4 linked regions of the Homo sapiens genome follow. The protein of the gene in region 4 interacts with the protein of the main gene of each other region in a pairwise test. Each region holds a gene or a part of one and is shown on either strand. Other genes may lie near its edges.

Region 1 (7,000 bases), on a different chromosome or scaffold from region 4:
CCCAGCTACTCAGAAGGCTGAGGTGAGAGAATCGCTTAAACCCGGGAGGCAGAGGTTGCAATGAGCCAAGATCATGCCACTGCACTCTAGCCTGGGTGACAGAGCAAGACTATTTCTCAAAAAAAAAAAAAAAAAAAAAAAAACAGTAATAGTTTTATCACAGTCACATATTTCTAAACAATGTATAATTTAGTTATGTTTTGTTTTTGATCTTTTAAACAAAGGTACAATATTATATGTGGTTTTATGCCACTTGTTTCTTTCAATGAAATGTTTATTATTCATCTGTATGGTTTTGTGAAACTAATAAAATGAATAAACTTTGTGTGTGTCTGTGTACCAAATTTATTTTTCCATTCTCCTGTGAATGGTTGCTATGAACATTTTTGCTCCTATCTCTTGGAAAGCAGATACATGAGGTGTGTATCACAGAAGTGTAATTACTAGGCCAGTAATATATGTGTTATTTGGCTTTAAAATATAATGCCATACTGTGAAATGCTGGTTTGTAAACCTGAATTGTGTCTTTGTTAGAATGGGCTTTGTTTAGCATTAACAGTAACAATCCAGGCCCTTAAATTATGGTCCTTAGTCTGGTTAGGATCTCTTCACCTTTGATGGTCGGAAAAGCAGGTACTCTTCTTGAAGGTAAGAGAGCAAGAATAAAGCTGGGAAAATTCTTTCAGGCCTAGCTATTATGTAGCACTTGGATTAAGTGCTAGGCATGACTAATCAATCAGGCACACCTTCCTCCTGAACTCCAACTTGGCCTCAGAATCCCTTCCAGCAGGTCCTCCAGGGGGCTACTACCAATCAATGAGAACTAGCATTTAAAAATGAAGTCTATTTGCCATCCTCTTAGGTGTTGTGGTTGGGGGCTGGAAGGGAGTGAAGTACCGTTACCAAGGGGTTGCCTTTTTTGGACACAGTATTTTATGGTAGTTGAGATACCGGGGGTGATGCACGAGTGGGTAAAAGTTGCTCTCTGCCCCTTTAACTCTCCACTCTGAGAGTTTCCAGTTCTCAGGGGGAAAGTGAGTGGGAGCTCTGTGGTACCTTAGCCCAAGTGATCCTCCTAGCTTCTACATAGCATGGGGTCAAACTGGGAATTCGCAATGCTGGGTTTTGTTGTTGTTGTTAAGGAAGAAAATAATAATTCTCTGCAATCTTAACATTTGGAAAAAAAAAAAAAACCCCAGCTATTAACATTCTGGTGTATATCCTCCTTGTTTTCTGATGCAAATACAATGCATATAAAATGTTTTCTTGATTCTGATGAGTTATAGGTGGGGTGGGGGTCCTGGAAGAAATACTACATTATTATTGTTATTATTTTTATTTTTTGAGATGAAATCTTGCTCTGTCAGCCAGGCTGGAGTGTAGTGGTGAGATCTCGGCTCACTGCAACCTCTGCCACCTGGGCTCAAGTGATTCTCCTGCCTCAGCCTCCCGAGTAGCTGGGACTACAGGTGCATGCCACCACACCCAGCTAATTTTTGTATTTTTAGTAGAGACAGGGTTTCACCCTGTTGCCCAGGCTGGTCTCGAACTCCCGGCCTCAAGTGATCTGCCGGCCTTGGCCTCCCAAAGTGCTAGGATTACAGGCGTGAGCCACTGCGCCTGGCAGAAACACTACATTAAATATATGCTTTGATTGTAAGACACAAAATGTCCCTAAATTCTGGATATTAAAATATGGGAAAAGAAGTTTATTTCAGAATGGAGGGAAAATGGGACATACATAATATGCTATATTTATCAATTCCAGAATACATATTTTAACTTCTCTGAAATCATAATGTATCCTAAAATCTATGGCTGATTATGGTTTAATTGGCAGATTTTTTTTGATTTCTTAGTAGTGAATAAAAATGGTGCATTTAATAATTTCAGGTTCAATGTAATTAAGTTGTATACACTTTTTCTCTCAAAAAAGTTGGATTATTTTGTAACCTGTTTTATTTACTTCATAATATGTTGTGAACAACTTTCAAACCATTAATATCCTTCTACACCATTTTAATGGCTGCATAGTATTCTTTTTGTTGACTTGTATATTAATTTAATTAGATGCCATATATTAGTTTTTATTTTCATTTTAGATTTTGGGGGTACATGTGCAGGTTTGCTACATGGGCATATTGTGTGATGCTGAGGTTTGGGCTTCTAATAATCTGCTTGCCCAGGTAGTGAACATGGTACCCTATAGGTAGCTTTTCAATTCTTCACCCTCTCCCTCCCTCTCCCCTTTTGGAATCTCCAGTGTTTATTGTTCACATTTTTGTGTCTATACATACCCAATGTTTATCTCCCACTTCAAAATGAAAACATGTTATTTGGTTTTCTGTTTCTGCATTAATTTGCTTAGGAGAATGGCCTCCAGTTGCACCCATATTGCTGCAAAGGACGTGATTTTGTTCTTTTTTAACAGCTGTGTAGTATTACAGGGTATATATGCACCAGGTTTTCTTTATACAATCCACCATTGATGGGCACCTGGGTTGTTTCCATGTCCTTGCTACTGTGGATAGTGCTGTGATAAACATATGAGTGCAGGTGTGTTTTTGGTAGAATAATTTATTTTCCTTCAGGTAGATATTCAGTAATGGGATTTCTGGGTCGAATGGTAATTCTAGTTTTAGTTTTTTGAGAACTCTCCAGGCTGCTTTCTACAAGGGCTGAACTAATTTGTAGATGCTATGTTTTGGAGATCAAGGGTGTGCTCTTCTTTTTCCTAGTAGATCTTCCCATATATCTCTGATTATGTATTAAAGACAAATTCCTACAAGTATAAATTTTGAATTCAAAATACGTTTTTAAGGCTTTTGATATAGATTTCCAAATTACCTCATCAAAGGAGATCATACATTTTTCTACTAGCAGCACAGGGGTTGTCTCCTCATCCCAATACTGGCCAACACAGAAAACTATTTCACTTTTTCATGTTTGTCAACTTAATCTGTTAAAACTTTTTTTAGTATTGTTTTAACTTGAATTTTTTATTATTAGAGAAGTGAAAGTTTTTTAACATTTGTTCTTTTATGAATTGTTGTTTTCTTTTGATGCCCTCAATTTTTAAGTATATGCATAACTCATTTGTTTATTACTCCTTTATGTCTAGTTCTCCCCTCTATTACCTAGCTCGATGCACATAACAGATGCTCAATAAATACTTGTGGAAAGAATCAGGGAGGGAAGGAAAGAGAGAGAAAGAGAGAGGGAAAGAAGATGGGGTTTCACTATGTTGCCAAGGCTGGTCTCAAACTACTGACCTCAAGAGATTTGCCTGCCTCAGCCTCCAAAAGTGCTGGGATTACAGGCGTGAGCCCCTAGGCACCTGGCCTTTAGTTCCCTTTGCTGCTGTCACAAACTACTGTAACTTCAATGGCTGAAAACAACACAAGTTTATTATCTTATAGTTCTGGAGGTTAGAAGTCTAAAACAGGCTGACACTTCTGTTTCTTTGCTATCTCCATCTACTTGAGGCTGCCCACATTCCTTGGCTCATGGCCCCCTTCCTGAATCTTTAAAGCCAGCAGTGTAACATCTTGTTCCCTGCTGACCTCCTGCCTCCTCTTATAAGGACTTGCAATTACATTAGGCCCACCTAGGAAATTTGGGATACTGTCCTTGTCTCAAGGTCTTTAACTTAATCACTCATGCAAAGTTCCTCTGCCATGTAATGTAATCTATTTATAAGTTCTGGGGATTAAGACATTGACAATTTTTGGGGGGCTATTATTCAGTCTACCCCAACGAAAAAGAATTTTCTAGATTGATCCAATTCATCACAAAATATGTTAAGAAGGAGCAAGGACAGTTAGTGGATTTTTTTTTAAAAGTTCTTTAAATAAAAACTTGAGCAGTCTCTAAATTATTCTGGTTACAAAGTTGAAAGTGACCCGGAGATTATGTATATATAGTGTGTATATAGGGAAAAAGATAGTGGGGAACATGAGAAAAAGTTGAGTATTTGTAAATAAATTACTGTCAACCAGGCTTTTTTTGAAAATGGAACCAGTTATGAGCTTTCTTAGGTGCGGCAGAGCAGGTGGGGTTAGTCAGTGTAATTCTGTGTGAGCATGTGGGAATGGCAGGATCAGCCCTGGCAGACACACAAACACACATGTGGCCTTTAATCTGATAACAGCTGGTGGTTGGTTATTGGGGGATAAATGATGCTATAAATGGAAATAATTTAATAAAAGGATTAGAGAAATTCCGGAACAATTAGTTCAGAAAATGAGTAAGTGCTAAACTATTCAAGTGACAGCCTTAAATGTTTGCATTGGATGTTGAGAATAACCACAGTCGACTTAGAATTCTGCTTTTCATTTGGCACTTTTAGCTGCAGAGGCAAGACATGTCGACATGTTACACAACCTGTTGTGAGCTGTATTGCTAAATATTGCTCAATAATTCTTAAATCCAGAAGTCTGAGAATGATTGCCTTTTAAAGATGGATTAGATCAAATGGCAGGTTGTCCCCATAATGATGCTATCTTTACCCACTCGCATCCCAGGATGTGTTCTGAACATGAATTGAGGGGGGTGCTTCAGCTAGGCCATGGAAATGTATACAGGTCTTAGTAGGGTGTGTGAGCTGTGGCAGAGAAAATCTTGAGAATTGATGTTTTAATAAAAAAAGGGATGTTAAAAATAAATTGACAATCTCCAGGCTTGATCCAAGGAAACAGTACCTTTTAATTCTTTTTTTTTTTTTTTTTTTTTGAGATAGGGTCTCACTCTGTTGGTCAAGCTGGAGTGTCATGGCACAATCATGGCTCATTGCAGCCTCTACCTGCTGGGCCCAAGCCATCCTCCCACCTCAGTCTCTGGAGTAGCTGGGACTACAGGTGCCTGCCACCATGGCTGGCTACTTTTTATTTTTGTTTTTTGTAGAGGCAGTGGTCTCACTATTTTGCCCAAGCTGGTCTCAAACTCCTGGGCTCAAGTGATCCTCCTGCCTCAGCCTCCCAAAGTTCTGGGATTACAGGTGTAAGCCACTACCCCAGCCCCCACTGACTTCTTATGTCAAGGTATTTAATAGTCAGTGCAAACATGAATCTCATGATCTCATCCAACGGCTAACTCTGTCTCCTATATGTACACCCCCACACCGACACATTTGCCTATCAGTGCCTCTTTCTGGAAGACCTCAACCTTCTCTGAGTACAAACTCAGCCTATCTCTCGAGGTCAGAACAATGCCTCCTCATCTCGTAGGTGATGCCTTTCTAGATTGCCTCTCCTACCTCAGTTGAAGTAGTCTCTCTTCCTCGAAACTTACAGCAAGTTACCATGCTTGTGGAATGTGGGTCCTGCCTTGTTTATATGTGTTTATGTCCCATCCCAGCCTGGGGACTGCTTGAAGGCAAAGTCGGTATTTCCTTTATCTTTTTTGTTTTTGAGACAGAGTCTCGCTCTGTCGCCCAGGCTGGAGTGCAGTGGCGTGATTTCGGCTCACCGCAAGCTCCGCCTCCTGGGTTCACGCGATTCTCCTGCCTCAGCTTCCCGAGTAGCTGGGACTACAGGCGCCCGCCACCACGCCCAGCTAATTGTTTTTTGTTTGTTTGTTTTTAGTAGAGACGGGGTTTCGCCGTGTTGGCCAGGATGTTCTCGATCTTCTGACTTTGTGATCCGCCTGCCTCGGCCTCCCAAAGTGCTGGGATTACAGACGTGAGCCACCGCGCCCCGCCTTCCTTTATCTTTTAAGGCCCTCTATTACCTAGCTCAATGCACATAACAGATTCTCAATAAATACTTGCAGAATGAAGCAGGGAGGGAAGGAAAGACAGAGGGAAAGAAGAAAAGAAGAAGGAATGAGAAAAAGAATTTAAAATATTGTGAAGTTATCTGGGTACTTGAGGGATGGGATGTTCTTTAAGACACCTACCCCAGGCTGGGCACAGCAGGCTTACGCCTGTAATCCCAGCATTTTGGGAAGCTGAGGCAGGCGGATCGCTTGAGCTCAAGAGTTTGAGACCAGCCTGGGCAACATAATGAAATTCCATCTCTACAAAAAAATAAAAATAAAAACAAGCCAAGCGTGGTGGCATGTGCCTGTAGTCCCAGCTACTTGGGAGGCTAAGGTGGGAGGGTCGCTTAGGCCCAGGAGTTTGAGGCTGCAATAAGCAGTGATTATGCCATTGCATTCCAGCCTGGAGGACAGAGAAAGACCCTGTCTCAAAAAAAAAAAAAAAAAGACACTTCCCTCTAATTTTTGAGGAGAGACCTTCTGGCAGGCTGGGAGTTTGTAAGCATCCCTGAAAGACAGAACGGTTGAACTGTTGGTCCTGTCCTCTCTGGCTGAGTTTTTGGAGGGCTTGCCCACCATGCAGGCACCTTGTCTTTGCATTTATCTGTCCGTGAGCAACTATTTCCATACAAGGAGCTGAGCAGCAGCTGCCCTTCCAGCCCTCTTCACTCTGACAGATCACAGAGTCCAGCAGGGCTGCAGAGCAGAGTGAGAGGGGACCAGCTGCTGGAGCAGGGCACATTCAAGGCTGCAGGCCAAGCAGGTGGGCCTTGTAGCTGCATCCGCCCGCCTTCTGTGCTGGGAGCAGCGTCCGGCGTCAGGGACCCTTAAGAGAATAATATCCCTGTGAGGATAATGATCTCGGCCAGTCTAAAGGGTTGCTGTGAAGATTTTTAAAAAAACGAATCACTAAAAACATCTCTTTGAAATGGCAAAGTGCTGTGTAAGTGGGAGTTGATACCTTCTTGTGTGAATAGGAATGTAAGACTCGGGAGAAACGAGACTTGCTGAAGGTCACCCAGCTAAGACTGCCTGGGACAAATGCTCTTTCTCGGAATCCAAAAAGTGGCTTTAGGACTTCATGTTATTTGGACACTCTCCTGCACTAGGGGCAGTAAGGCAGGGGAGGGGTGGGCATTTCTTTTTTTTTTTTTTTTTTTGAGACGGAGTCTCACATTGTCACCCAGGCTAGAGTGCCGTGGCGTGATCTCGGCTCACTGCAAGCTCCGCCTCCCAGGTTCAA
Region 2 (7,816 bases), on a different chromosome or scaffold from region 4:
CAGCCCGCCCACCTTCGTTGCGATTGGCCAACAGGATGCGAGGCATGAGTCTCTCCTGGCAGTAGGTGCGGAAGGTGTCCCTGATGAGGATCTCATCTGTGGTCAGCTGCTCCTCCAGCACCAGCGGGTCCTGCCAGTCAAACTCGGGACGCGAGGCTGGGAAGGGGAATTCGCCTCGGTCCAGTCCGCAAGATCACTGTGCCCTCCCTTCTCGGACCCTCATCAGCCCTACCCCCCAACACCCATGTCGCCCCCCGGCTAGTGCGAGCTGCAAGCGAGACTGATCAGGTGACTTTTCTCCGGCCCCGCAGGCACAGCGCACTCACTGCCTTAGTGCCTCTGACCCTGGCCACGACCCTGCCACCCCGCTCGGGCAGCTCTCGGATTCTGGGACAGAGTCCACCTGCGGCAGACAGACAGCTGAACAGGGGCAGCAGACACACGGTGCGACCAGAGGTCCTTACACTTAGCCAGTTGGCTCTGTGTTCTCCCGCCTTTCTCTGCAAGCACAGAACGGGAAAGTCACCCCGGAAAGTCCCTAAACCCCCAGTTCCTCCCTCCTTCCCTCCACACTCCCGACCCCACACTGACCGGTCTGCGCCGCCGACGAGACCCACGTGCGAAGGACGTGCAGGCCGGGTCCGCGGCTCAGCAGCCGCACGGAGACGCCTCTCAGGGCCATGCTCTCTCAGAGCGAGCGGAGCAACGACGGCGACCTACAGGAGCGGGGGTGTCAGAGCGGAGCTCCTCTCACCCACGGCTGGGGCTACCGCACCTTCCTTACCTGGTAGTACCTCCCGGTTCACTGCCGAGGCTACAGTGCAACTGACGCAGGCCTTTGACCTCAGCAAGAAGTGGGAGGAGCGGAGGCCGAGTGAGGCTTTTCATTGGTTCCTCCTAGAATCCGGCCCCCTCCGCAGCTCTGCCTTTTAAAAGGGCTAAGGTAGCCTTGCCTGTGGAAATCGGGGGGCCCAGACAGAGATAGGCTAGCCCCTTTAAGAAGCGGACGGGGTAGGGGCGGAAGACGAGTGCGGGAAACCGATTGGCCAGCTGGGTTTCTCCTCTTATTGGCCGTAGGAAAGGGCTCGGCCCACTCCTGGTTGGTCAGTTGCAGGGGGTGTGTGCGGAGGGAGTCAAGAATTAAACAAAGAAATTCTGGCGCGAGCACTAGGCGTCCTCCTGAACCCAGGAGGCCAGACTCGAGTTCTCTAATTGGGTGCTGGTTGTGGGGAAGACGAGCTCCAAGTGGGCGATCTTAGCAAACCTTTCTGCCAGTCTGTCCCAGGAAGCACATGTAGATACTTGTGACTCTGTGTGTGTGTGTGTGTGTGTGTGTGTGTGTCTGTGTCTGTGTATGTGTGTGTGTGTGTGAACTTGTGTGATTCTGTGAGTCTATGTGGTTGTTTTGTTTTGTTTTTGTTTTTTCTTTTTAGACAGGGTCTCGTTCTGTCGCTCAGGCTGGAGTGCAGTGGCGCGATCATAGCTCACTGCAGCTTCCACCTCCTGGGCGATCCTCCCACCTCAGCCTCCAAGTAGCTGGGACCACTGAAGCATGCCATCATGCCTGGCTAATTTTTTTTTTTTTTTTTTTTTTTTGAGACGGATTCTCACTCTGTTGCCCAGGCTGGAGTGCAGTAGCGCAATCTTGGCTCACTGCAACCTCTGCCTACTGGATTCAAGCAATTCTCCTGCCTCAGCCTCCTGAGTAGCTGGGATTACAGGTGTGAGCCACCATGCCTGGCCTTTTTTCTTATATTTAATAGAGACGGGTTTCACCATGTTGGCCAGGCTGGCCTCAAACTCCTGACCTCAAGTGATCCACCCACCTCGGCCTCCCAAAGTGCTGGGATTACAGGCGTGAGCCACCGCGCCCCGCCTGTTTTGTCTTTTTGTGTAGTGCATTTGTGGTGCACCCATTCTGATTGTGTATCTGTTGAGAAATGTGTGTGTCTTGATTCTCAGGACCTGTGATGCCATGTCCTTGCGTTTGTCTGTGTTTAACTGGGTGCATCCCCTACGGTTGGGCACTGGTAGCTATGCAACTGTGACTAAATAATTACTTTACATATTGTAAAAGTGACCGGTGGTGTGACTGTATAAAGTGTAGGTTTTGACTGGCTGGGGCGGCTCATGCCTGTCATCCCAGCACTTTGGGAGGCCAAGGAGGGTGGGTCACCTGAGGTCAGGACCAGCCTGGCCAACATGGGGAAACCCCATCTCTACTAAAAATACAAAAATTAGCCAGGCCTGCTTGTGGGTGCCTGTAATCCCAGCAACTCGGGAGGCTGAGGCAGGAGAATCACTTGAACCCAGGAGGCAGAGGTTGCAGTGAGCTGAGATCATGCCATTGCACTCCAGCCTGGGCAACAAGAGTGAAACTCTGTCTCAAAAAAAAAAAAAAAAAAAAAATTAGCGTGGCGTGGTAGCAGGCACCTGTAATCCCAGCTACTTGGGAGGCTGAGGCAGAGGAATCACTTGAGCCTAGGAGGTGGAGGTTGCAGTGAGCCAAAATCATGCCACTGCACTCCAGCCTGGGTGACAGAGAGAGACACTATCTAAAAAAAAAAAGTTCTGTGACAATGTATCTGACTCCCCATGTGTGTCTGCTCAATTACGGCTAAATTGTGTCAGTAGGATTGTATAACTGTGTGCCTGCCTGTGGATTATGAATTCTGTGTTTTAGAGATTGTTTGGCTATGACATTGTGTAACCAATATAGCATAGGGTTGTGTTTTAGTGCCTGGGAATTGTATGTCTGTGCATAGTCCATATACATAGACAGACACACAATTATATGTGCACGGATTATATGATCAGTGTGACTGAGGGAACAGGAACTCATGTCATTATGTAATTGCATGGTCCTGTGAGTAACTGTGTTTTTGTTTTTGTTTTTAGAGATGGGATCTCGCTATGTTGCCCAAGCTGGTCTTGAACTCCTGGGCTCGAGCATTCCTCCTACCTTGGCCTCCCAAAGTGCTGGGACTGCAGGCATGAGCCACTACTCACTGCTCCAAGCCTGTTTTGTTTTTGTTTTTTAGAGACAGAATCTCACTCTGTAGCCCAGGCTGGAGTGCAGTGGCATGATCTTGGCTCACTGCAACCTCTGCCTCCCAGGCTCAAGTGATTCTTGTGCCTCAGCCTCCCGGGTACCTGGGATTAGAGGTGTATGCCACCATCCCCGGCCTATTTTTATATTTTTAGTAGACAGGGTTTCACTGTGTTGGCCAGGTTTGTCTCGAACTCCTGGCCTCAGGTGATCTGCCTGCCTCGGCCTCCCAAAGTGCTGGGATTACTAGCGTGAGCTACTGCGCCTGGCCCCATGCCTCCAAGTTTCAACCAGTTCTCCAGCTCAGCCTCCCAAATAGCTGGGATTACAAGCATGTGCCACAATGCCCAGCTAATTTTTGTATTTTTAGCAGAGAGAGGGCTTCATCCTGTTGGCCAGTCTGGTCTCGAACTCCTGACCTCAAGTGATCTCCCCACCTTGGCTTCCCAAAGTGCTGGGGTTACAGGTGTGAACCACCGCACCTGGCCTTGTTTTTGTTTGTGTCACCCAGGTTGATCTGCCAGGAATAAAGATGGCCACCCAACTTTTTTTTTTTTCCAGCGACAGAGTCTTGCTTTCTGTGCCCCAGGCTGGACTGCAGTGGTGTGATTATAGTTCAGTGCAGTCCCGACCTCCTGGGCTCAGGCAATCCTCCCACCTCAGCCTCCTGAGTAGCTGGGACTATGGGCATGCACCACCACTCACAGCTTTTTGTTGGAGAGATAGGTTTTATGTTGCCCAGGCTGGTCTTGAAATCCTGGTGTCAAGTGATCCTCCTGCCTCAGTCTTCCAATGAGTGACTATGAGTTATGTGTCTGTAATACGTATCCATGTCCCCTTCCCAGGCTCCCAGGGCACCAGAGTGGAGGTTCCTGTTGTAGAAACTCAGATCCTCTCCTCATGTTGGGCAGAATCAAGGAGCAGCCAGGCCCAGAGCCAGGGCACTGGTCTCCTGCAGGTCAGGTACTGCCTGTGGCTTGATCCAACGGTCCTATCCCACCCAGGAGGAGAGAGGGTCACTTTTCCCTTGGCTGCCCCCATCGCACTAAAGCAGCTGGCACTGAACCAGCCTCCATGCAGTCCCATGCAGTGCCACCCAAGGGTCCCCAGTAGACAATGGTGGGCCAGTTGTCAGGGGCTTCCTCCTGCTGCAGGGCTGAGACCCTGGGAGGTCCCAACCCAGGCAAATTGAACGCCAGGCTAATTTGAAGACCCAACTCCCAGCCCTCCCCTTCACCGGAGGACAGAGCTCTAGCTGGCCTGGGCCCCCACCTGATAGCAGCCTCCAACGTCTGGGGTGTCTGATAATGCTTGGCGGGGAGCTCGTGCCAAGTCCCGCCATCAGCACGGTTGTTGCTGTTTACTGGGGAGGGGGAGGGCTGTGGAGCCTCAATCAGGGGGACAGGGGGTCCCACAGCTTCTTCCCAGAATACCCTTTCTGCCTTTTCCAGGAAAGTTAACTGAGGGAAGACCCCCAAGTCTCTCCTTCTTTGGAGACCCAATGTCTGTTTTTACCCAGCACCTGGACCCTCAAACCCTGAACCCCCCAACCCTTGATATTTGACTTGGCTTTGGACACAGGGTTAGTCTTTAACCCCAGCCCCAGACAGGCCAACGTGAAGTTTGTGCCCCAGAAACAGTGCCCCCCCGCCGCCTTGCCTTGCTTTGCCTTATCAGAGGCTGCAGCCAATCAGCTAAGGACAGAGAGGAGCCCTCGAAGGGGCTATCACAGCCTCAGAGTTCACGAGGCAGCCGAGGAAGAGGAGGCTTGAGGCCCAGGGTGGGCACCAGCCAGCCATGGCCACAGCCGAGACCGCCTTGCCCTCCATCAGCACACTGACCGCCCTGGGCCCCTTCCCGGACACACAGGATGACTTCCTCAAGGTGGGGCCTAGAAGGTGGGGTCTAGGTGGGCTGGCTGGAATCCAGGGCCACAGTCACAGATCTTGGGGTCCAGACCTGCATCTTGACCTGAAATCAAGAGACTTAACCAGGACTGAGGTACGCTCAGTCCAGGAGAGGAGATCTCAGCTTAGTCTGGCAGGGGGTGAGGAGGGTGGTCTAGGGGTTTGAGGTTCTAAGTGTGATCTATTTCGGTAATAGAAAACGAAGGTAGCCTGGGCAACATGGTGAAACCCTATCTCTACAAAAAATACCAAAAACATTAGGCCAGGCATGGGGGCGTGTGCCTGTAGTCCCAGGTACTCCGTAGGCTGATGCAGGAGGATCATTAGAGCCCAGGAGATTAAGGATACAGTGAGCTGCACCACTGCACTCCAGCCTGGGCAAAAGAGTAAGACCCTATCTCAAGAAAAAAAAAAAAAAAAAGGAACGAGATCTAGGCTCACAGACAATCTTCCAGATATCAGCGGGAAATGATGAGTGTGTCTGGGGGACATCCAAAATTTCGGAATTAATCTTGTTTTGGGAGACAGGGAAGGAGAGGGATGTTCTGGGGGAAAACTAAGTCAAGGCTGGCATCCTCTCCCCCGTCCCCTGCCAGTTTTCCATCTCCAGCAGCTCTGCTACCCCTTCCCCCATCCCCGAGTGTGGTTCCAGATAGTGGAAGTCTTATCTCCTGTCTCCAGCCAGACCTGATCGGTTTCTGTCCCTGGAGCTGGGGGGGGAGCGGGGAGAGGGGCGGTTAGAGGGGCAGTGTTGGGGAAGTGGGACAGACAGACAGGCAAACAAGACCCCTTTCCAAAGCCTCTGCGTCAGAGTGTCCAGCCCGCGATGTCCCTGGGCAGGGCACCCCAGTGTCCACCGAACCTCGAGCTGCCTGCTCCCTCCCGCAGTGGTGGCGCTCCGAAGAGGCGCAGGACATGGGCCCGGGTCCTCCTGACCCCACGGAGCCGCCCCTCCACGTGAAGTCTGAGGACCAGCCCGGGGAGGAAGAGGACGATGAGAGGGGCGCGGACGCCACCTGGGACCTGGATCTCCTCCTCACCAACTTCTCGGGCCCGGAGCCCGGTGGCGCGCCCCAGACCTGCGCTCTGGCGCCCAGCGAGGCCTCCGGGGCGCAATATCCGCCGCCGCCCGAGACTCTGGGCGCATATGCTGGCGGCCCGGGGCTGGTGGCTGGGCTTTTGGGTTCGGAGGATCACTCGGGTTGGGTGCGCCCTGCCCTGCGAGCCCGGGCTCCCGACGCCTTCGTGGGCCCAGCCCTGGCTCCAGCCCCGGCCCCCGAGCCCAAGGCGCTGGCGCTGCAACCGGTGTACCCGGGGCCCGGCGCCGGCTCCTCGGGTGGCTACTTCCCGCGGACCGGGCTTTCAGTGCCTGCGGCGTCGGGCGCCCCCTACGGGCTACTGTCCGGGTACCCCGCGATGTACCCGGCGCCTCAGTACCAAGGGCACTTCCAGCTCTTCCGCGGGCTCCAGGGACCCGCGCCCGGTCCCGCCACGTCCCCCTCCTTCCTGAGTTGTTTGGGACCCGGGACGGTGGGCACTGGACTCGGGGGGACTGCAGAGGATCCAGGTGTGATAGCCGAGACCGCGCCATCCAAGCGAGGCCGACGTTCGTGGGCGCGCAAGAGGCAGGCAGCGCACACGTGCGCGCACCCGGGTTGCGGCAAGAGCTACACCAAGAGCTCCCACCTGAAGGCGCATCTGCGCACGCACACAGGTGAGGGGGCGGGGCCCCGGACATGAGAAAGGGCGCGGCGCCCGCTGTAGTTACAGGGGAAGAAGGGTTGCAGAGGGCGGGACTTGGACTTGGCTGGCCTCTGAGAGTGAGTGCCTCCTTAAATTTTGTGCCCTAGGGGCCTCACTTTGTTCATCCTAGTCCCAGCCCAGGCTGAGTAAAGGGGTGTGGCCAGATGCAGGGGACCCGGGGACATGACTGGGCAGACAGTGGCGCTTATGGCTTCCTTGTCCCCTAGGGGAGAAGCCATACGCCTGCACGTGGGAAGGCTGCGGCTGGAGATTCGCGCGCTCGGACGAGCTGACCCGCCACTACCGGAAACACACGGGGCAGCGCCCCTTCCGCTGCCAGCTCTGCCCACGTGCTTTTTCGCGCTCTGACCACCTGGCCTTGCACATGAAGCGCCACCTTTGAGCCCTGCCCTGGCACTTGGACTCTCCTAGTGACTGGGGATGGGACAAGAAGCCTGTTTGGTGGTCTCTTCACACGGACGCGCGTGACACAATGCTGGGTGGTTTTCCCACGAATGGACCCTCTCCTGGACTCGCGTTCCCAAAGATCCACCCAAATATCAAACACGGACCCATAGACAGCCCTGGGGGAGCCTCTTACGGAAAATCCGACAAGCCTTCAGCCACAGGGAGCCACACAGAGATGTCCAAACTGTCGTGCAAACCCAGTGAGACAGACCGCCAAATAAACGGACTCAGTGGACACTCAGACCAGCTCCCAGATGGCCCTGGACAGCAGGAGAGGGTGTGGGATGAGGCTTCCCAGAGACCCTGGGTCTAGAAAGCGGCTCCTGAAGGTCCCTTATTGTGGCTGATATTAACTGTCAATGGTTATGGGTCCTATAAAAATGCCCCTCCCAGATAAAGCTTCAGCGTTGGCCTGAATTTTTGGGTTTTGGAGGCTGGAAGATGGCAGGAGGCTGTAAACCTAGAGGTCATATTAGAGGGCCTTACACACCCTCATCTCCTAAACTACAGTGACACCCCTCAACTCCAACAAGCCCCCTTGGGCACTGGAGGCCTTGCTGTCCTCTCTTTTCCCACCCAGTTCAGGCTACACTGTCCTTGTCTTCTGCCTTGAACCCTGCGGACATTGACAGCAAACATCTCCCTGGAT
Region 3 (7,031 bases), on a different chromosome or scaffold from region 4:
CTTCCACCCCTCTCCCCCCAGACAAAAAATTATAGCCAGTTTAGCATTTACTCTTTACAAGGAACTTATTTTCTGAATCTGTCATTAAAAAGTACCTTAATAACTCTCTGTTCTACCACAGTATCCAACCATTCAATAAAAGCCTCCACAGTGGCATTCTTCTTAAGGAGATCCTTCAGTTCTTGGAACACAGTGATAGAGTCATCTACCCAGGAAAAAAAAAAAAAAGAAAGAAAAGAAAACAGAATATTGTACTCTACTTGGAATCCAAGAGAAAACCTAAAACTTGGAATCATCAATACTTTGATAGCATGAAAGGGAAAGACAGATAAATGTGTGAAAAGAATTAATATCATATCTTGAAAACAGTAACAAAAAAATCCTTAGTACTGTACTCTTCAATGGTGTGTGTGTGAGAGAGAGAGAGACAGGATCTTGCTTTGTTGCCCAGGCTGGAGTGCAATGACGTGATCATGGCTTACTGCAGCCTCAAACTCCTGGGCTCAAGTGACCCTCCTGCCTCAGCCTCCCAAGCAGTTGGGACTCCAGGCACGCACCAACAAGCCTGCCTAAATTAAAAAAAAAAAAAAATTATAGAGCAAGGTCTTGCTGTGTTGCCCAGGCTGGCCTTGAACTCCTGGGATCAAGCAATCTTCCCACCTCAGCCTCTTGAAGTGTGCCCGAAATTTTAATAAGTGTATATATCTTGGTATATATTGAAATATAGGTTTAAATCTTATATGTGTATTCACATACTAGGGAAGATTAAGTTGTTTATGTAGTTAAATATTCATTTTGAGTCTAGTGTTTTCATTAAACGGAACAGATTAGTTAAAAGTGAATGAATGAACCTAAGCTTGGTGATTTCCTGCTTTCCAAAATATCTTTTATCTTTAGTAAAAGTTAATTTCTTCTCAGCAGAATTGAGCCATTTACCTGAATAACGTTTTATCATGTAATATTTAAAAGGGCAGTTTAAGACTATCCTTTTATTAAAGGTTTTAAGGTTTACTGAATCTCAAAAGGTAATCCTATTTTATGTTAGGAAATAAAAAGTGGAGTTGAGATTGGGCCCCAGAGAGCAGTCCATAGTTTGTGCTCCAGTGTATAGGAGGCTGCAGGTTTTGTCTTTTCAAAGACAGAGGGAGGAAAAAATAGTGGCTGTTATCCCTTGAAATTCAAGCCTAGTTGTCTAGCCATGCATATTGGCTTGGTAAGCTCTCTCAGATGGTCCAAACCTGAGTAGAGAGTCTGCTTTGAAAAGCAGTATTGTGCTGAGATACCATTTTGATATTTATCACACACCACAGGATGACAAGACTATAAAACACATGTAAATTTCTATACATGTAATGTAAAACTGAAAGAAAACTTACAAAACTCAAAACAATTTGATTATTTTCAGATTATTTCCATTTCATTTATTTCTAGGTAATGAAATTACAGATGACTTTTATTTTCCTCAATATTTTCTATCTTTTCCATGGTGAGTAATTATAACTATTTTTTATTAGAAGATAAATTTTTTTAATTAAAAATATTTTTATAAACCAGGTTTTTTTTCAATCAGATGTGATTTTTCAGCCCAGAACACCTTTGACAATGTGGGGAAACATTTTTGGTTGTCTCAGCTTGGGGGAGGCTGCTACTGTCATCTAATGGGTAAAGGTCAAGGATGCTGCTAAACATCCTACAGCACACTGGACAGGCTCCTCCAACAGAGTTACCCAGCTCAAGATGTCAATTTTCTGAGCTTAGAAAACCTTGTTCTAAACAAAGAGAATGGACTTACGTTCAGTGTAGATACCAGATTCAGTGTCTGTGCTGCCTGAAATGGTAAGAAGGGCTTGAGAGCCAATGCTGTTCAAATCAACCCTTTCAATATCAGACACCATAGAATTAACGACATGCTGGTCAAAGAGAGCTGGTCTGGCAATCTGCATAGAGAAAGTAAAGAAGACACTACACTATATCATTTCTAATGTATCTAGAAGAAATTTTTAGCTATCAGAAAAATAGTTCCTTGAGATAAAAGTATCATAAATAACTTTTTTCTTATTTTAAAGACAAAAGCAGTAGCTGAGACTCATGATCATCTCTGTTAAAAGTCTGAAAATTATAGGAGATACACCTAATGTAAATGATGAGTTAATGGGTGCAACACACCAACAGGGCACATGTATACATATGTAACAAACCTGCACGATGTGCACATGTACCCTAAAACTTAAAGTATAATAAAAAATAGAAAAAGAAAATATAAATGGATTCTCTTTGTCCATGATCACAAAATAAGAATTTTTAAATGTTACATTTCCTATCTGAAATCATCTCAAGCTTGTCTTTTAAAATTTAGAAGGCAAGAAACCTTCATAAAGCAGATAATCATTTTGGGGAAAGAGAAATATATTTTAACAATATACAAATGCATCATTCTTAACTTATGAATTACTTTTGCTCTATTTAAAAGAGCCATGATTAGTCGGCAGTTTAAAATGTGTTGAGTTTGTGGTTTCACAATATTAAGTATCACACAGGCTTACTTCTCACAACCTTAATTTGTACCAATTAGATTCACATGGCAAATAAATGTTTAATTGCATTCAAGTTTTTTAAATTTCCAATCACAGAGAAGTTGCAAAGATAGTGCAGAATATTTCCATATACTCTCCATCCAGCTTCTTATCATCTTCTGTAACTATTGTATATTACCCAAATTATGAAATTAACATTGGTACAATACTATTAACTACAGACATAATTCAAATTTCACCAGCTTTCCCACTAATGTGCTTTTTCTATCATAGCATTCACTTCTGGGTCTCACGTTGCATTTAGTTGTTGTCTACTTAGCTCCCTTCAATCTATGAAAGTTCCTCAATCTGTCCTTCTCAGAAGATTCATTTTTTATATGGTGACTCAAATGCTCTCGACTTAGCAACCAACATACCTGGGCAAGATGTAAGAAAGATGTTTGTCGTTTCAGAGAAGATACAAATCTTCGCACAATAGGTATTTTCTTGTCAGTTAGAGCTTCTGGCAAGTTTTCCAAGGATGAAACAACCCACTGTTCCCAATTTTTAGCAAAATTTCTTATGTCTGCTAATAAGCTACAAAGAAGGCTATGTGTTAAATGCTTCATTGTTAAAAAATGCATTAAACAATCATATTTTAATTGAGGTATACTATTATTCTATGGTTTCATAAGCAGTACTTTTGAAGTCAGACAGCCTAGATCTGCCATTTATCATCTTTTCTTATGCTATATTTTTAAAATGTTTGTGGGTGCATAGGAGGTGTATATATTTATGGGGTACATGAGATGTTTTGTTATCATCTTGGTCAAAACACTCAAGCTCTTCAAACTCCACTTCAAGTACCCAATTCAGAGTACAGAATAGATATTTAAAGACTACAATTGATAATTAAAAGACATTATTGATCAGGCTAATACCAACTATCATATAGATGAAATAATCTGGAGGAAAAGGTAAATAAAAAGTAAAATTTGTTTTACCAAGCAACATCTATTTTTGGAGCACCAACTATGTCCAGTCCTATATGAATTTGTACCCCCAAAATACTAAAATAAATTTTATCATTTCATTAGATTTTGTTTTCAGAGAAAAAGTTGGCTTTTTTTTTTCAGAATTCTATTGTTCTTATATTGAAAAGGTTTTTTTTTTTTGAAAAATCTTCTGGTATTGTTTCAATAAACTATTTGAGATTTTATTCCTTTGTTAAAAGAAGGCAGTAATTTCATCATGCCACTTTCTGATTTTGTAATTAAGACAAAAGTTAATAATAAAATACAATAATTTCTCCTATAGTTTTTATTCTTGTGGTTATTTTCCATTAATTATCTTTTTTATCATACTCCAGCTAGTTTCCATTGAAAAATTTCTCGAAGATCAACAGTGCTTAAATCTATTTTTCACTTTAGCCGCTCTCAAATTAAAGGGATTGAAGGATTGTTTCACCCATTTTGTTTATTGAGGCCCAGCTATAAGACACATCTCTTCCAGCAAATACAAAGGGACAAAAGTAGAAAATAGTCTTCTTGATAAATGAATAAATTACTACCTAATGTTTTCTTCTAATATAATGTATAAAGTTAAATCCTATACTAGGAATGCTCATGTTTTATTAACTGAACATACCTTTCAGGCATTTCTTGCATTGTTGCAGGAATGAGTACATCTGTAAGAACCTTAATCATAGCAAAAGAGGTTAATACAAATCTTTACTTAGTATTTCTATAGAAAGACATATTATTGGTCAACTACTTTTTATTCCTAGCTTCCTAGAGAATAACATGTTAACTCCTTTCTCAAAGTTATAATTTTATCTCCAAAATGAATGTATGTATGAGTTGTGTGTGAGTGTGTATGACAATAAAAACAAGAGATAGCACTGTATATGTACATGCTCAGTATGTTAATTACCAATGGATTGGTCCATGGTAATCATATACCGTTTTATGATGAAAAGCTGACCACTTTCTAGAGGTGGGAGGAAGATTTTTGTAGAAGCTCATCTTACACCGTTCTACTTACAGAGCTCACTGTGCCTCTCTGGGTCCACCATGAGGAGGAGAAACCAGGTTCATTTAAAGATATTTAAAGTCAGGATGTTTATACTAGACTAAAAAAAACAGATCACTTAAAGGGAGAAGTGTGTTTTAAAAGTATTTCTTGGACAAACTGAATGACAGTCCAAAAAGCTTTGGTCTGATGGAAATTTGTGTGCATGAGCCCCAGGTCTTTTCTTATACTCACTCACGGAGCTGCCTCCCCTCCCCTTTTGGGAGCCTTGTCAAGTGTTAAGCATTACAAACAATTAATGCAAATTAAACTGTTTTTCTCTAAATAATGGCATTCATATTCAATCCAGAAAAAAAAAAAAAAACAAGACAATCCTTACTCTCCTCTGAAATTTTTTCAACTTGAACTTGAACTAAAGGCAGAAAATATATTGTACTTTATTCCTCCTTTCTCCTATCCTGTGATGAGGAAGTACTGGACAGAGGATAAAAATATGCACTCTCTTATTCAAGTTGTCTCATTACTTCTTGGTCTGCTTAGGGGCTTCTGGACTTAGTTTATCTATAAATAGCTTTTGCTTTACTTTTCTGCAAAGCTGAGAATCTGATAGTGGCAACTAACTTAGAAGGATTTTATTTCCTAAATGTTTAACAGCGTCCAGCTTGGGTTTTCTTGCCAACTCAGATTATTTTTTAAAAGGAAAGCTTTTGTTTTTCCTTATGGTAAGTTAGAAAGCAAATGTAGGCAAACTCACTTTAAAGTACCCACATTGCAATATAGTTTTATCCATCAGCTTAGAACTTGTAGCCACCAGGGAAGAGACTGTCAAGAATTAGCCTCTTTCTGTCTTCCATTAAATGTTTGCCTAGAAGGACAATCAGTTTGTCCTTATTTAGGATGTCTTCGAGATCCTTCTGCAGACACTTAGGAACTCTGATTTGGTTTGAGAAGAGAATTAGACATTAATGCATTAAAGTTAGAGGTTTTTGAGATTTTCAAGTTATTAATCTCATAAGGGTGCCTAATTCTGCTTTCTGCCAAAACACTGGCATTGTGAAAAAAAATCCACTGTGTTATTTTAATCTGAAAACACCTTAGAGAGTTAATAAAATTTAACTAAGTTTTCACATATTAATAAGTGTGTCACATATAGACTCATTATTAGCTGTAAAAAGAAATTGAGTTTGTTTTACTTAATGTAAACTTCAATTAAAACACATACACTATTAAACGTGCACTATTAAATTGCTTGCTTTCTCATCAAAAAAAAAGACAGTGTATATCCAGCCATAAATAACATATTTACTGAAAATATATTGCAAGAATTTAGATAGAATGCTACGTAAAGAAATAAATGGCTCATGTTTAAGACATCCCAAAGTGCTTACCTTATAAAGAATTGAGTCACAAACACAGAAAATATCAATGATAACAGGATTTTCGAGCAGGGGAAGGAGATGGTCAGGCATTCCTTGCCAAAAGTGTAATAAAAAATGCTGGATCTAGTTGCAGAGTAAAAAGTATGTTAAGATTTTTTTCTTTAACATGAACTCATTAAGAACAGAACATGAAAGTATATATAATAGGGTCAAATAAAGCATTCTTTGTCATTCTTACCTCTTCAAAGTTTCCATTAATTGCATTGTCCAGGATACACTGGCAGTGAGTTTTGTACATCATTATGAGCGTATCAACCTATTTCAAGGAAGAAAAAGCTTAACCAAAGCATCCTTTTAACACTGCCTTTTCTTGTTAATTTGTTCAACACAGATTTTTTAAAAGATCCTATTACGTACCAAGCAGTATGCTCAATGTTGAGGACTCAAAAATTAAGGCAAAATTCTTATTTCAAGGATCTTACTGCCTTGTGAAGGGAGAAAAGCAAACAAATGGACAACTACAGTATAATATGAAAAAGGTAATTTTTCAGAGTACTATGGACCAAAGTAACATCCTAGTTTTATGCCTACTAAAATATTAAATTTTAAAATTTAATTTTTAATTTAAATTTAAATTTTTTAAAATTAATTTTTGGGTAAATAAACATAAAGTAGTAAAAGTAGTAACAAAGATTTGGATAAATAAACATAAAGTAGTAAAATACATCAAATCTTCACACAGTTTTATGAAGTGGATGCTTGGAGCAGTATGGCATAATGGTTTCAAATTTTGTCTCTGGAGTCAGCTCAACTTGGGTGCCCACCTTCACTGCACTACTTACCAGGTATGACTGCAAAAGTGGCTTTGTCTCTGAGCTCCCAAGCTTTTTAAGTAGGTAGTAATAACATATTACTTACATGGTGTTAAGAAAATCAAATAAAATAGGATGTGACACATATGGAACAGTGCCTGGCACCCAGTAAGACCTTACTAAACATTATCCAGAGTTAGTAATAATATCAAATGATGCATTTTCCAAAAAAAAGTTTCAAACATTGAATGTCTATTATGAAAAGTCTCTCTTTTCAAGTTACCATGGATATTTGC
Region 4 (7,031 bases):
CAGGGAAGCCACAGGATTCTAGCCAGCAGGATGCCTGCTTAATCCTCGTAAAAGGAAACTGGACAACAAACGAGATGGAGGTAAAATGAAATCCCAAAGGAACGCCTCCAAGGATCCCGTCTTCTACCTGTCAGGAGATGTTCTATTTTTCTAACTTCCCCACCTTCAGCATAACAGGATTTAGTAACTGTTTAGACCTTTTGAAGAACAAAGACAAAAATAGGAAGTTGTGTCAGAGGAGTGCAGTCATCTCTTATTCATGGTAGTGTTTTGGTTCGATTTTGGAGCATCCACCAGGTTCGCGTACAGGAGAAGAAACACGGATGATCTCTGTCTTTATTTTGGGGGAGGACAATCCGGCCTTCTTGGGACTGTTCCAGCCCACCTCCCAGATGCTTCGGTCAGTCTGATCCACGAGATATCTCAGGCTGGGAAGAACACATCTTGGGCCAACTTCCACAGCAGCCATGCGTCCAAGGATACAGAATCAGGCAGGCCGATAAAAGGATTTTGACTTGGGTTTCACAGGAAGGAGGTATGCCATCAAACCCCACTGTAGTCAAGGATCAGAAGGTGCTTTTAGCAGGAACTGAAGCTTTTTAGTATAAGGCCCACTTAGGGTGCCAGCACCCTGACAGTGTCCCTTTAATCCACTTCAGATCTGGTTGACTCATCATCAGGTGTTTCCATTCACTTTCAAAATTACACAGTCACAGGATAACAGTGAGATCCACTGCTAAAGGGTAAAGGGTCAGAGGCTGAAGAGTACTGTGTAATGTCTGCATGAGATTTGTTTTAAAAAAGTCTGAATTGGCATGGTATTTTGAATGCTGCTGGAACTGTAATAAAGGTTCACCTTTAGGAAGTGCTGATGGCACACCAGGGCCCAGCACACCGCATGCACTATTCTATAGAATTTGCCCAACACCCTTTGTGCTACAGATTACTATTATACCCATTTTACAGATAAAGAAATAAGAGGCTTTGTGAGGTTAGGGAGGCTGAGGTGGGCAGATCACGAGGTCAGGAGATCGAGACCATCCTGGCTAACACAGTGAAACCCCGTCTCTACTAAAAATATAAAAAATTAGCTGGGCGTGGTAGCAGGCACCTGTAAGCTGAGATCATGCCACTGCGCTCCAGCCTGGGCAACAGAGCGAGACTCCGTCTCAAAAAAAAAAGAGGCTTGGTGAGGTTAAGTAACCTGGTCACACGTACAGCTACTGAGTGGCAGAGCCTGGACTCCAACCCCAGGATCATGTGCCACCAGAACTTGGCCCTTAGCTACTGGGCAGATGCTTTAACCCACTTATGCCTCATGTTCCATTATTGGGACGCTAACCTTTTAGGAATTATTTGTATCCTACTGCTCAAGATCATCATTAAAGTCTGATTTTTCACAAAAAAGTTTGTAACCTCCAGCATAAATGGGTTAATTGGTTCCTGTGTCTTAGCCCTGAGCCCTAGAAATATCCAGTGGACTTTTACAATAGGTTTCATTATTACCATTTACACTCATGTATTTTTCGACCATAATGGTATGTTAGAATGGAAGCTGCTGGAAAAACAGGGCTGGCCTGTGGGAACTTTATTTAACAAGTTCTCCTCTGACAGCAGCAGTTAGTGGTTCTGAAGGGAAATGTGGGATTGGGCCAATTTTCCTTCCTTTCCCAATACAGCTACTTCAAAGATCTGTCTAGACCAGGTGCTGGTGTCCTGCCCTGCCTGGTAGAGCAAGTTGTCCTGTGCTATGACCGCAGTGGTCTGCCTGAGGCTGATCATGGGTATAGATTGGTGTAAGAGGGTCCCATGTAGACATCCCTAAGAGGGAGGCTGTAGTCAGGAGTGAGGAGACAAGGCTAATGGGAAAGAGGCTGTTAGCCCTGCCCCTTGGGGTGGTACTGTAGAGTCCCCTAAAACAAAGCAGAACCAGGAGACATTGGCTCCCACCAATCAGTACAAGATATTAGAACTTTCTGATAATATGATGATACCACTTTAGAAGGTAATTTTTTCCTTTTTTTTTTTTTTTGAGACAGAGTCTCACTCTCGCTCAGGCTGGAGTGCAGTGGCACCATCTCGGCTCACTGCAAGCTCCGCCTCCAGGGTTCATGCCATTCTCCTGCCTCAGCCTCCCTGGTAGCTGGGACTACAGGCGCCCGCCACCATACCTGGCTAATTTTTTTTGTATTTTTAGTAGAGACGGGGTTTCACCATGTTAGCCAGGATGGTCTCGGATCTCCTGACTTCGCGATCCACCCGCCTCGGCCTCCCAAAGTGCTGGGATTACAGGCGTGAGCCACCGTGCCCGGCCTTTCCTTAGTTTTTTAATCCCTTGTGGGGTCTCTAAAATAGCATGAAGCTCTCTCCCTGTGATGAACCAGAGCAGGTCCACTGCAATCAAAAGGGGACAGAAAGGAGCGGGAGAGCACCAGGAATTATTATGTTTACTCCTTACTGGGAGAGCTATACCAAGAGAACACAGCAGATGCTCAATAAAAACTTGCTGAGTTTGGCTGGGCGCAGTGGCTCATGCACTTTGGGAGGCCGAGGCAGGCAGATCACCTGAGGTTGGGAGTTCCGGACCAGCCTGACCAACATGGAGAAACCCTGTCTCTACTAAAAATACAAAATTAGCCGGGCGTGGTGGTGCATGCCTGTAATCCCAGCTAACTAGGGAGGCTGAGGAAGGAGAATCGCTTGAACCAAGGAGGTGGAGGTTGTGATGAGCTGAGATCGCGCCATTGCACTCCAGTCTGGGCAACAACAGCGAAACTGTCTTGCTGAGTTTTCCTGAAAAACAGTCTTAGAAACACGTGGCTGAGTCCTCTTGACTTTACCCCAGCTGCAGACTGTACTATCTATAGCAAAACCACATGGCGGGGTGGTAGGAGTGGATCCACAGCTGCCACTTAAAGCCTAGAATTTAAACACAGAGCAACTCAGCAGCCAAGTGTTAGGATGAAACAGAAGCTGAGCTTCTGAGCAGAATACGTCTTTGAAGCCAGACATATTTAGCCGGAATTCTAAACTTACCCACCCATTCACCACTGATTAACCAAGATCCAAAGAGGCAGCTTGATCCAGCCATCCACGCAATGGAGATGCTGAGCACACATATGACTGCCACTACAACCAACAAGCCACCGGCCCTTTCACTCCAGAGACGATGGTCTTATTAGCAAAAGGCCACTGCTCCTCAGTTGCATTTTCTTGCCTGGTGTGCCTGCACTTGGCACTCCAGAAGCAAATCATCCTTTGGCAGGTTCCACATCAATGCAGGGGTTGGGGACTGCTTTCTCCTTGTCCAAACCCTGAAGGGGCCATTCCCAACTGCACTGTGTTGGAGTGGGCCTACATAGCTTGATGTGAGTCCAGGGGAACAGCAGGTTCCCTGCATCCATCCACTTGTGTGCTTACCTCTGACTGGGGAGAAGGCTTCCTCTACCTTTCAAGCAATGATGTTTGCATTCAAATGTCTCTGTCAAAGGCGGATTCCTGATAATCTGTTCCTCTTCACCATACCAGCACATAGGCATATATACAAAGATCCTGCTACAGAAACTTTAAAGGAAGAAAATCATGGTGATCAGCCAGGGCCTTCTCCCTTTTCCACTGTTCAACTCAACTGATTTCCTCAACTCAAAAATGTGGGAACAAGCTTTTCTAGCCATAATACTCCCTCCACTGCAAATGATCTTCCTGTACAAATAGTATCATACACATCCTGATATGTCTGTATGACAAAGCCAGAGTCATCTGTCTCTTCAACTTGCATCTGACTCACGTGTGAGGCTGCAGGAGTCAGGCTGCCTTTCCTCTTTGCCATTCTTCACAGCCAGGAGTCATTTTTGTGGCAAAAATTGAAAAAGACAGATCTATAGGTAGATACTTAAGTCAACTATTTAAGAATTGTTGGGATTGAAGGATCTGAGGGCACCTGGAAGTTCACCTGATTCAATCTTAACTGTTCTGACATTCAGCCTTTGTTTGAACACATGCAGAGATAAGAACATTCGTTTATTCGTGCAACCCCTCCTGTAGGTACAGGCTTGGTGGCAGCAGGGCAAAGGAGGACACAGAGCTCTCTGCATTTTGATTCCAATGTCTCAATGTTTTTGGTGCTCAGAAAGAACTTTATCCTCTTCCTTTTTTTTTTTTTTTTTTTTTGTCTCTTCCTATTTCTGCCCAAGGAATGAGTCCAGGAGTAGAATCCTGCTCCTTCTCTTCTGATAAAAACTGCAATTGTTTTCTCTTCTTTCTGAGTACCCAGCATGGGTTGGACCAGCACCTTCTTTAGTCTTCTTGCAGGAAAGGGACTTCCCGCTCTGGCTCTGGAACCCAGAGATGTTTGGCCTGTGATCCAGACCCAGTCTTGGCTTTTCTGAGAAAAAGTAGACTCTGGTTTACTCTTCTGGATTCTCCATTCCGGTCATGTAGCTTATGGCTGTTGCCCAAGTTCTCTTTACTAGCCCTTGGAAAATAAATCCTGATGTACAATAGTTGTTGGCTTTGCCACATCAGCTGCTTCCTTACTGGGCCAACTTTCCCACTGTCCCTGCTGCTCTCAGTTTTTCTCTCCTCCTGAGCTGGGCTTCAAGGGCTGTAGCCCTGGGTCTCCTGTCCAGTTTCTGCCCTACTCCACCATCTGGTCTGGGCTTTCTGAGTTTTATCATGAGCACCCTTCTCCACTCAGCAGTTTTCAACCTCTGGTCTCTGACCCCAGTTCTCAGACTGGGAACTTCCATATTGAAAACTTGACAAAATGCCTGCTAACAGCTTGTTACAGCAGGTTTTGAGTTATCCGGGGGAGCTGTCAGGAAGCCAGGTTAGGATGAAGCAAGACAAGAAACGACATTATTTCTAGGGCTGGGGAAGCCCCAGTCAAGACAGTCAGCCACAGCCTGATAACTCTCCCTGCATGCGCAAGCCCACCGCTTGCAACCTGGAGGAAGCTCCTGTCAGCAATGGGCTCTAATGACATGTCAGAAAACAGAACAGACAGCTTAAGAGACCTTCACTACTACTTCCCTGCTTTCACAGCAGGTGTCCTGGTGGTACAAACCCCAGGTATGAAGCTGCAAGGAGGGACCCAGTTCCAGGACACCAAGAACACCCAGCTACTCAGCAATCTCCTTCCACCGTGGACCTCGGCACATGAACACAGCACAGGCACCCAACGATTCCGCCAAGGCCTGCAGGAGTGTTGTGCCTGGTCCAACCCAGAGTGTCAACAAGCATGTCTTTCCCAACATTGTTACAAAGTGCAAGGATAGAGTCTCCCAAGTGTGCGGCTCCTTTCACCTACCTTGTCTCCTGGGATCCTCATAACAGCCCTGTGAGGTGGGAAAGGGGGCTATTCTTAACCCCATTTGAGAGATGAAGAAACTCAAGCTTAGAGAGGGAATGGGAGAACTCGAGGCCACCTAGTGAGAGGCTGGGACTAAACCCTGGGTCTCTTGACTCCTGGTTCAGTGCTGCACCCACTAAGCAGGCTTTCGGAAGCATTGGGACAAGCAAGAATGCCCCAGGAGATAAGGACATCCCAGTGCTCCCCACTGGCCAAAGCAAAGCACACCATGCAGAAGCATCCTCACGTTCACAGATAGCTGCTCCAACCTCCTTTAGCACAGACACAGTGCAAGCCTCCACTGATGCTGTGCTTGCAAAACACAAACATCTAGCACTTCCAACAGCCAACTAGACCCGGCAGAACCTTGGGGACAGGCTTGACTTCACCCAACACAACACCACTGCCACAGAGTTAGACACTACTTAGGCCCACCTTGTCCTCAAGCATGCTGCCCTGCTCAGAGCACCTTCCACTTTCCTCTCTCAAGGCCACAATCTACCTGAGTTTGGGCTCTCTTCTGACTACTTGTGCTACAAAGTGTCTGCTCCTTGTTTATCTCCAGACTCAACCTCCTTCCCTGGCTGCTGAATTTCATATGCCAGTGAATCAACCAGCAAAAGCTCTCAAGCCGGACCAACCTCTTTTTCTCTCACTTTGGGACCTACTAACTCCCCCACCAACCTCAGTGGTTCAGTGGTGTCTGCAAAATGCATCCATCCTGCCATCTGAGTAGCAGGTGAGAGTTATGGGCCCAAGCTTGGGAAGAACCTCTCTCCTTCTGTTTTGACCTGCTGGTCTCCTGGGACTTCCCATTCTAAGCACCCCAAGCTTCTTGGGAAGGAAGAGGTAGCAAATAGCTAGTTGGGTGATGAAGGTGTTTATCATTCAGTGGGAAGTAGGGGGTGGCTGTGCAAAGAGTGGAGTCTGAGGCAGGGTGATTGAGACACCCCTAGGCCTCCCATACACGCTCAGGCCCATCCTCTGGAAGTGAGGAAACAGTGGGCAGATTACCTCGGTTACAGATACTGCAGAAGTTGCTGGGCCCCTCGCTGTGCTTCTTCAGGTGGTCTGCCATGTATGCTGCCCGCAAGTACTTCCCACACACCTGGCAGGGCACCTTGTCTTCATGACAGGCCAGGTGGGAGCGCAGACGGTCTCGGGTGGCAAAAGAAGCATTGCAGGTCTGAAGGCAGAAAAGAAAATGGGATGATGTGAAACCCAGCACCCCACACCTGACTCCCCACCAAGTGCACCATGAAGCAAAGGCAATTTCTGGCCATCACATGACCTCCCTTTATAAAGACAGCTTTAGAGTTTGGCTCAGGCTCCCTACCCAGAATGCCAAGAGGCTGCTCTTATTTCCCATGGTACCTCCTTACGGGACACTTGAGTGGGAATCACTGGTACTAACTAAATGACTACTGGAAATGTACCCAGGACATGGCAAGCTAAGCTCTATACCCCTCTACACAATGAAGAGTTACACATTTGCTCATCCTTAGACATTAAGAATTGACTTTAGGTGCATTAGCTATAATGCACAGAATTACATTTACATGAATTTACAGATGAGTTATTGGCATATAAACCAGCCTTCCTGTTCTGTATCCCTGGGTTTCCCCTAGTTTTATACAAAGAATTATATTTGTTCATTTTATTCAAAAGTGACATTAGTCTT

What was found.
Region 1: the proteins of PATZ1 (region 4) and SMYD1 interact in binary tests that used the Homo sapiens proteins (3 or more experiments, as listed by UniProt).
Region 2: the proteins of PATZ1 (region 4) and KLF1 interact in binary tests that used the Homo sapiens proteins (3 or more experiments, as listed by UniProt).
Region 3: the proteins of PATZ1 (region 4) and RFX6 interact in binary tests that used the Homo sapiens proteins (3 or more experiments, as listed by UniProt).

The regions. Positions count from the first base shown.
Region 1 is NC_000002.12:88,070,825-88,077,824, forward strand, and holds part of SMYD1 (histone-lysine N-methyltransferase SMYD1), read left to right. Parts: intron 1-7,000. UniProt on the Homo sapiens protein: Methylates histone H3 at 'Lys-4' (H3K4me), seems able to perform both mono-, di-, and trimethylation. Acts as a transcriptional repressor. Essential for cardiomyocyte differentiation and cardiac morphogenesis.
Region 2 is NC_000019.10:12,884,171-12,891,986, reverse strand, and holds KLF1 (Krueppel-like factor 1), read left to right. Parts: upstream 1-4,785; 5' UTR 4,786-4,846; coding exon 4,847-4,933; intron 4,934-5,844; coding exon 5,845-6,670; intron 6,671-6,926; coding exon 6,927-7,102; 3' UTR 7,103-7,565; downstream 7,566-7,816. Other genes in the region: GCDH (glutaryl-CoA dehydrogenase, mitochondrial isoform a precursor), read right to left, coding at 13-156, 465-500, 592-682. UniProt on the Homo sapiens protein: Transcription regulator of erythrocyte development that probably serves as a general switch factor during erythropoiesis. Is a dual regulator of fetal-to-adult globin switching.
Region 3 is NC_000006.12:116,915,216-116,922,246, reverse strand, and holds part of RFX6 (DNA-binding protein RFX6), read right to left. Parts: intron 6,240-7,031; coding exon 6,162-6,239; intron 6,047-6,161; coding exon 5,933-6,046; intron 4,211-5,932; coding exon 4,161-4,210; intron 3,111-4,160; coding exon 2,951-3,110; intron 1,938-2,950; coding exon 1,793-1,937; intron 206-1,792; coding exon 96-205; intron 1-95. UniProt on the Homo sapiens protein: Transcription factor required to direct islet cell differentiation during endocrine pancreas development. Specifically required for the differentiation of 4 of the 5 islet cell types and for the production of insulin.
Region 4 is NC_000022.11:31,329,328-31,336,358, forward strand, and holds part of PATZ1 (POZ-, AT hook-, and zinc finger-containing protein 1 isoform long C), read right to left. Parts: intron 6,537-7,031; coding exon 6,365-6,536; intron 6,090-6,364; exon of another isoform or gene 6,022-6,089; intron 1-6,021. UniProt on the Homo sapiens protein: Transcriptional regulator that plays a role in many biological processes such as embryogenesis, senescence, T-cell development or neurogenesis. Interacts with the TP53 protein to control genes that are important in proliferation and in the DNA-damage response.